2 linked regions of the Homo sapiens genome follow. The protein of the gene in region 2 interacts with the protein of the main gene of each other region in a pairwise test. Each region holds a gene or a part of one and is shown on either strand. Other genes may lie near its edges.

Region 1 (3,746 bases), on a different chromosome or scaffold from region 2:
GAGCACGGTTCTGGGTGGGGACGACGGGCTGGCTGGGCCACCCGGTCACGGAGGGAGGGAGGCAATCGCTCCCTAGAGTCGGCCAAGGAAAAGGGGAGAAGGCGGCGCCGTCCGCCCGTCCTCCTCGCCTCTGGCCAGCCCCGTCCATCCTGCCGCCCTCCCCACCCCGCCAAGACGCTGTGGGGACCCGAGTTTCATGGGTGCAGCAAACCGGGGCTTCTAGCTTTTCCCCGGGCAGGACGGGGTAGCACTGGCTCCTGTCCTTCCTGGGCCCCGGCCCGGCCGTGCAGAGCTCACTGGGAGGGCTGGAACGAGCCGGCCACAGAGGGACAGCAGGGAGGGGCCAGAGGATACCGTGGCGGGGGCGGGCGGAGGACGTGCACGCACGCTGGGTGGAGGCGCAGGGGTCACAGGTTCTGGCAGCACTGCAGCTTGTTGGGCTTCTGTCCGTCCGTGGTGGGCGGCACGCTGATGTCCACCACGTTGTTCCCCGGGGACTCGTCGTGGGCAGCGCGGTCTGCGATCTGTTTCTGTGACACGATGCGGTAGATCTCTGCAAAGGGGGTACAGGGGGACGTGGGGTGAGCCAGCACGTGCCCTGCCTGCCGAGGGGAACCCCTCCCTGCAGGACTCCAGAGGCCCTCTCCAGACCCCCACAGCGCCCCCATCACATCAGGGGTAACAAGGACAGGGGCTGCGCACCCAGCCAGGACCCACATCTGGTCACAGCCAGCCCCGGCCTCTCGCTCCCTAAGATCAGAAGCGCCCTCCTCCCTCAGAGGTAAACTCCCAGAAGCCAAAAGGCTCCAGGTCCCTGAGGCTACCCGCCTCCCCGCAGCGCCAAGAGTTAAGGCAGGGCCCATCCCCAGGAACTGGGGCCAGGGGGTCTCTGTGTCCCCAGTGCCAGCAAGGGCTAGACCTGGTCTGACCCTGTGAAGTGTCCAGGTGGACCGGCAGGTTTAAAAAGCAAAGGTTAGGGGTGGTGGTGGAAAAAAATCAAACAGGCCAGGTGCAGTGGCTCACGCCTGTAATCCCAGCACTTTGGGAGGCTGAGGCAGGAGGATCACTTGAGCCCAGGAGTTCGAGATCAACCTGGACAACATTGTGAAATCCTGTCTCTACTAAAAATTACAAAAATTAGCGGGTGTGGTGGCAGGCACCTGTAATCCCAGCTACTCGGGAGGCTGAGGCAGGAGAATTGCCTGAACCTGGAAGGCGGAGGTTGCAGTAAGCTGAGATCGAGCCACCACACTCCAGCCTGGGCAAAGAGCAAAAATCCATCCTGCCCCGACAAAAAAAAGAAAAAAACAAGCAAACGAACAAAACAAGCGAAGGTTCAGAGGCCGTGTTCCACCCTGCCTGGCTGGTGCCCTACCCACACCCATCTGGTCCCCGGCCACCTGTGAGGATGTTCTTGAATGCTTCCTCTACGTTAGTGGAATCCAAGGCTGAGGTCTCGATGAAGGACAAGTTGTTCTTTTCTGGAACAAAGAATACTGCCTAGGTGAGTGGGGAGGCAGGGTGACAGGCTCCCACATGCTCTCAGGGACCCCGCCCACCCACCTGGCCCATCCCAAGGCCACTCCTCAGGGAAGGGAAGCCAGGGCTGTGGCCAGGGCCCCAACACTGTGAGGGGCCTCCTGCCTTCCAGACACCTCTCTGATGCCTGCGTCTCCGTCTGCTCACCTGCGAAGGCGCGGGCCTCGTCAGTGGGCACAGCCCGCAGGTGGCGCAGGTCACTCTTGTTGCCCACCAGCATGATGACGATGTTGCTGTCTGCGTGGTCCCGCAGCTCCTTCAGCCAGCGCTCCACGTTCTCATAGGTCAGGTGCTTGGCGATGTCGTACACCAGCAGGGCGCCCACTGCACCACGGTAGTACCTGCAGGGTCAGGGGCCCATGAGCCTCTCTGGAGGACAACCATGGGCAGCGGCAGCCTCACGGGATAACAGCACACATCACGCCCAGGGTGGGTCGTCCAGGGCCGAGCCAAGGGGCAGTCATTGTGGCCTCAAGGGAAGGGTGTGTGTCTGGAGGCCCCAGCGCTGCTCCCTGGATCCAGCTCTGAAATGTGGGGGTCTGAGGAGGGAGTTTGGGAGCTGGAAATAGAAGATACCGTGAGGTCATCAAAAAAAGGGAAGAAGGGGCTGGGCATGGTGGCTCATGCCTGTAATCCCAGCACTTTGGGAGGCTGAGGCGGGTGGATCACTTGAGGCTGGGAGTTTCAGACCAGCCTGGGCAACATGGCGATACCCCATCTCTACTAGAAAAACACAAAAATTGGCCGGGGGTCGTGGCTCATGCCTGTAATCCCAGCACTTTGGGAAGCCGAGGCAGGTGGATCACGAGGTCAGGAATTCAAGATCAGCCTGGCCAAGATGGTGAAACCCCATCTCTACTAAAAATACAAAAATTAGCCAGGCGTGGTGGCAGGCGCCTGTAATCCCAGCTACTCGGGAGGCTAAGGCAGGAGAATTGCTTGAACCCTGGGGGGCGGGGGGCGGAGGTTGCAGTGAGCCGAGATTGTGACACTGCACTTCAGTCTGGATGACAGAGTGAGACTCTATCTCAAAAAAATAAATAAATAGGCCAGGCAGGGTCGCTCACGCCTGTAATCCCAGCACTTTGGGAGGCCGAGGCGGGCAGATCATGAGGTCAGGAGATCGAGACCATCCTGGCTAATGCGGTGAAACCCCATCTCTACTAAAAATACAAAAAATTAGCCAGGCGTGGTGGTGGGCGCCTGTAGTCCCAGCTGCTCAGGAGGCTGAGGCAGGAGAATGGCGTGAACCTGGGAGGCAGAGCTTGCAGTGAGCTGAGACTGCGCCACTGCACTCCAGCCTGGGCGACAGAGTGAGACTCTGTCTCAAAAACTAAAACTAAAAAATAAATAAATTAATTAATTAAATTAGCCAGGCATGGTGGCACAGGCCTGTAGCCCCAGCTACTCAGGAGGCTGAGGCAGGAGAATCGCTTGAGCCTGGGAGGTCAAGGGGGCAGTGAGCTGCAATTGTGGCACTGCACTCCAGCCTGGGCGACAGAGCAAGACCCTGTCTGTCTCCAAAAAAGAGGAGGCGACAGCCAGGCACGGTGGCTCACGCCACCTGTAATCTCAGCACTTTGGGAAGCCGAGAGGGTGGATCACCTGAGGGCGGGAGTTTGAGACCAGCCTGACCAATGTGGAGAAACCCCATCTCTACTAAAAATACAAAATTAGCCTGGTATGGCGGCATGTGCCTATAATCCCAGCTACTTGGGAGGCTGAGGCAGGAGAATCGCTTGAACCCAGGAGGCGGAGGTTGCAGTGAGCCGAGATCGTGCCATCGCACTCCAGCCTGGGCGACAAGAGTGAAACTCCATCTCAAAAAAAAAAAAACAAGAGGAGGTGACAGAGAGACAGATGTACCTGAGGGATGAAGGAGATGGGAGGGAGCCCAGAGGATCTCAAGACGGTGGTGGGAATGGCTGGGGGGCTTGGGAGGGGTCCAGAAAAAGGCAGCTGAGTGGGTCCTGATGGCTGGGAAGCCTTTGCAGGGAATGGAGGCCAGGCCCAGGTGGGAGGACAGGAGGCGTGTGGGACCAGGTGTGGGCACCAGTGAGGAGGGAAGCTGAGGGAGGAGGAAGGCTGGGATGCTGGCTGGGCAGGGGCAGCGGCAAGGCGGAGTGGCCTGAGCTAGGTCCTCACTGCACTTGGTACCCAGAGATACCCTGGTGTGGCGAAGGCTGGGCGCTGGTCAGCCTGAGGGT
Region 2 (3,746 bases):
CGCGGCCACCTTCCTGAGCATGAACTCATCCCGGCCCTGCTCCCCTCCAGGAGGAATGGGAGAGTTGAATAATTCCTCAAACTTAGAAGGGTGGCCAGCCCACGGAGCCGAAGGGCTCCCACATGGGCTAGACAGCCGCGTGTGATCGCCAGGTAAGGACGCGGAAGTGACTGTTCCTACCCAGCCCAGACCTGTTGGCCCGGGCGGGTGTCCCGGGAATCGCATACCCACGCAACGCGCGTGGACACCACACGCACACACAACTCTGCATGGAGGCGTGTGCATAGGCACTGTTAAACGTGTTTTGGCCACCCAAGAAGACGAACAGGAAAACCAGGCATTGGACTATCCAAAACTTGTTTTCTTAAAGGTGCATAGGGCACATGTGAAGAAAAGGCCTTTGCCCCTCTCACTACTGACTCCAGGTTGAAACTCGAGGGGTCCCGGGCGGCTGCAGCGCTGCCGCGAGCTCCCCTGGAAGCGGTGGCTTGTCCCTAACTTTAACCACAGCAACTGCTGCGGAACGCGGGCGTCTCCGCCCGGGCTGCACCTGTTCCCGATTCGGAGCACCCAGCCTCACACATCCCTTCTGACCTTGAAGGCATCCTGAAACTCACACCCTGCTCCCGGTTCGACTTTACTCCAACCCCCTCCCCGCAGTCACTGAAGCCCTCTTTGTACCAAAGAGGCCGCGTCAAAACATCCATCCCCAGCAAATTCACAATGCTCTTCCCTGGGGTCTCCGGAGATAACGGCGCACCCCTCTACCCATTGCTTACCCTCACTCCATCCAGCCGCCGCGCCCTCACGCCAGGTTGTCTCCTCCCTCTCCACCAAGTCCAGAACCCCCACCTCTCCCAAGTCCAGGGTTCCCTGTTGTGGGTATGCGGGAGGAAAGGACGCCTCGGAGGCGCGCCCTCGAGAGCCGGCGCCGCAGAGCCCCTGGGGTGGGGTCCACGGCGGGGACAGGGGACAGCAGCGGGAGCACCGCGGGGGCCCGTCCCGCGCACGGCGCTCAGAGCTGGCAGGGTCGCCCTGCCGTTCGGGGAACTCGGTTGGAGCCGAGCCCAGGCAACGAAAGTGAGGGGCGCGGCGGGGAGGGGGCGACAGCCCTGGCTTGGTGCTGAGCCGTGGCGCTGCGGAACCTCTAGGAGCCGGGTGGCCGGTCAGTGCGGGCGTTCCCGGAACCGCCAAACTTTCTCCGCCAACCGAAGTTAGGGACTCCGAGGACAGTGACGAGGAGGACACCGCGGAGGGGGGTCTCCCGTCACCTCCCGCCTCCAGTAGCCGAGGGAGAAGGCGACCCTGAGTACTAGGTGGCCCCGAGCGCGCCACCCCGGCCCCGGGGCGCCTCCCTCGCGGCCGCGCTCACCTGGCTGTAGAGCTCGCCCACCGACATGGCCCGGGCCGGGCGGGGCTCGGGCCCCGGCTCCTGGCTGCCCCGCGGCTCTCAGTCCGCGGCTGGCCCGCCTGGCGCCATGTTCCCGGGCTGGCCTGGAGTTTCTCGATCTTCTCGCTCTTCTCCGACCTGCCCCGCCGGCTTCCCGCAGGCGCCGCGGCCGGCTCGCTCCCGGCGGCGCGACCTTTACTCCCGCCGCGGCGGCGCAGCTACGGCCGGACAGGAGTTGCGAGCGCCGGGGGAGGAGGCCGCGCCGCACCACTCCCCTCCCAGGTGTGGGGAGGAGGCGAGGGCCGGCGAGGAGGGAGGACCCGCTCGCGTCAGAGCGGACGGCCCGTGCGCCGCCGCGCCTCTGAGCCCTGCCGGTGCCCGGCCCGACGCGCCCTCCCGCGCCCCCGCTGCCACCTGGGCCTCCGGGCCGGGGGCGGGGCGCTCAGAGAGGAGCTCCGGGACCGGCGCGGGCCGCCCCCTGCTGGACGCCGCGCGCGCGCAGGCACAGGTGCGCCCCGGCGCCCGCACCTGCCCTGCCGCGCTCCGCTTCCACCCGCACCGGGCCCCGCGGAGTCCGGCATGAACGCGGTGCAGACAAGAAAAGGGAAGAGGAACTAACCAGAGAGGGGGGAAAAAAGAGAAGCGTCTATGGCTGGAAGGCCCCAGACATTGCCCTCGATTTTACCTGGCTGTATTCAGCGCTTTCATGATTAAAATTCAGTTACTCGTAGATCGTTATTAAGGCGACCTGGATATACATACACCAGGGATCTTCTCCTTCAAACTGAACTCTCTGCGCGGAAATCCTTGTCAGTAAAGTGGGAGTCGTAACTCCTTCTGTACAAATATTGTCCACTTTCGCCCACAGCCTCCAAGGAGACTCCAGGCCACTCATCTCAGAGGGCTTCTGCTTTTCCGGGAAGTCTCACGTTCTCCCAACCCCCGTCTCGTCTACATGCAGACTCCGGGTCCTTTTGCCACTCACTACCTCGTTTATTTGTGTTCCCTCTCTGACCATGGCACTTGGCTGCCTGCAGCAACTTCAGCTCCTCTCCTACTTCCAGTGAAAAGTAGAAATTTCAACCAAGAAAAAAAAAAAAAAACTGCCAGAAGTCTGTGGAGGGAGACGAGGGGCTGTCAGAGGAGACACTCCCTTCTGAAGCTGACATCTGTCCCTGACCCAGGGGTGGCCCCTGAAAAGTGGTTCTCAACCGGAAGATATATCTGTACCAGCCGGGGCAGTTGTTCAAGAGCCCCAGAAGGTGATTCTCAGAGGCATCCCACCTGGAACTCAAGATCCCGTTGTAATTCACCTGTGCAGGCCTTCCCATGGGCACCTCCACAATGAGAGTCACATGGGGAGCTTTAAGCGTTCCAAGGAAGAGGCCCCAACCCAAGGAATTCTGATATAATGAAGGATGGGACCTGGGTATCCCAATTTTTAAAGCTCCTCTGAAAGTCTAAAGGATGGTACTTCCAGGGTGACAAATGCATTGACCAAAGCTTGGGCGGCTCTCATTGGACCTAAAAATGGAACTCTTCACATCAGTGGCAAGAGCAGAAAGGGATTTTTTTCTCTTCCTCAAAAGTTTTTCTGCATATTTCCCTTCCCCGGATTCCTGTAGCTCTTAAAGTGTGTCCCCACCCCCCACGCCCACCATCAGCATCACCTGGTAACTGTTAGAAATACAAGTTATTGGGCTCCACTGCAGACCTACTGAACCATAAACTCTGGTGTGGGGCCAGTACTCATTGTTCTTTCTGCCTCCAGGTGATTCTCCCCTTTTTGAATAAGAAAGTCATCAGTCCTGCCTAGATCCTGGCCTCTTCCTCCACCACCATTAGTGGTCCCATCTCTCTACCAGCAACTCTTCCTCTCTCCACTGGCCCCTGGCTTTTTGTGTTTTCCTCTCCTGCTAAACTTCTTAAAGCAGTAGCTTCACTTATTTAGCTATCTCCACTTACGCCCAGTACCTCCTTAATTCTCTGATTCTCAACACTTTATGCACATCAGAATCACTTTTGAAACAAGTGGATGTCTGGTTCCCACTCCCAGAAATTCTGATTTAACTTGTCTGGGGGGTGTTGCCCTGGGTGAAAGGATTCTGAAGAGCTCCCAGATGGTTCTAATGGCAGCCAAGTTTAAGAGCTGCTGTTCTGGCCGGGTGTGGTGGCTCATGCCTATAATCCCAGCACTTCGGGAGGCCAATGTGGGCCGATCACTTGAAGTCAGGAGTTCAAGACCAGCCTGGCTAACATGGTGAAACCCCGTCTCTACTAAAAGTACAAAAATTAGCTGGGCGTGGTGGCGCATGCCTGTAATCCTAGCTACTTGGAAGGCTGAGGCAGGAGAATC

Evidence for each region. The genes of interacting proteins can lie anywhere in the genome.
Region 1: the proteins of MYO5B (region 2) and RAB11B interact in binary tests that used the Homo sapiens proteins (3 or more experiments, as listed by UniProt).

What each region holds. Positions count from the first base shown.
Region 1 is NC_000019.10:8,400,220-8,403,965, reverse strand, and holds part of RAB11B (ras-related protein Rab-11B), read right to left. Parts: intron 1,881-3,746; coding exon 1,687-1,880; intron 1,482-1,686; coding exon 1,401-1,481; intron 554-1,400; coding exon 408-553; 3' UTR 1-407. UniProt on the Homo sapiens protein: The small GTPases Rab are key regulators of intracellular membrane trafficking, from the formation of transport vesicles to their fusion with membranes.
Region 2 is NC_000018.10:50,193,395-50,197,140, forward strand, and holds the start of MYO5B (unconventional myosin-Vb), read right to left. Parts: upstream 1,754-3,746; 5' UTR 1,400-1,753; coding exon 1,373-1,399; intron 1-1,372. UniProt on the Homo sapiens protein: May be involved in vesicular trafficking via its association with the CART complex. The CART complex is necessary for efficient transferrin receptor recycling but not for EGFR degradation.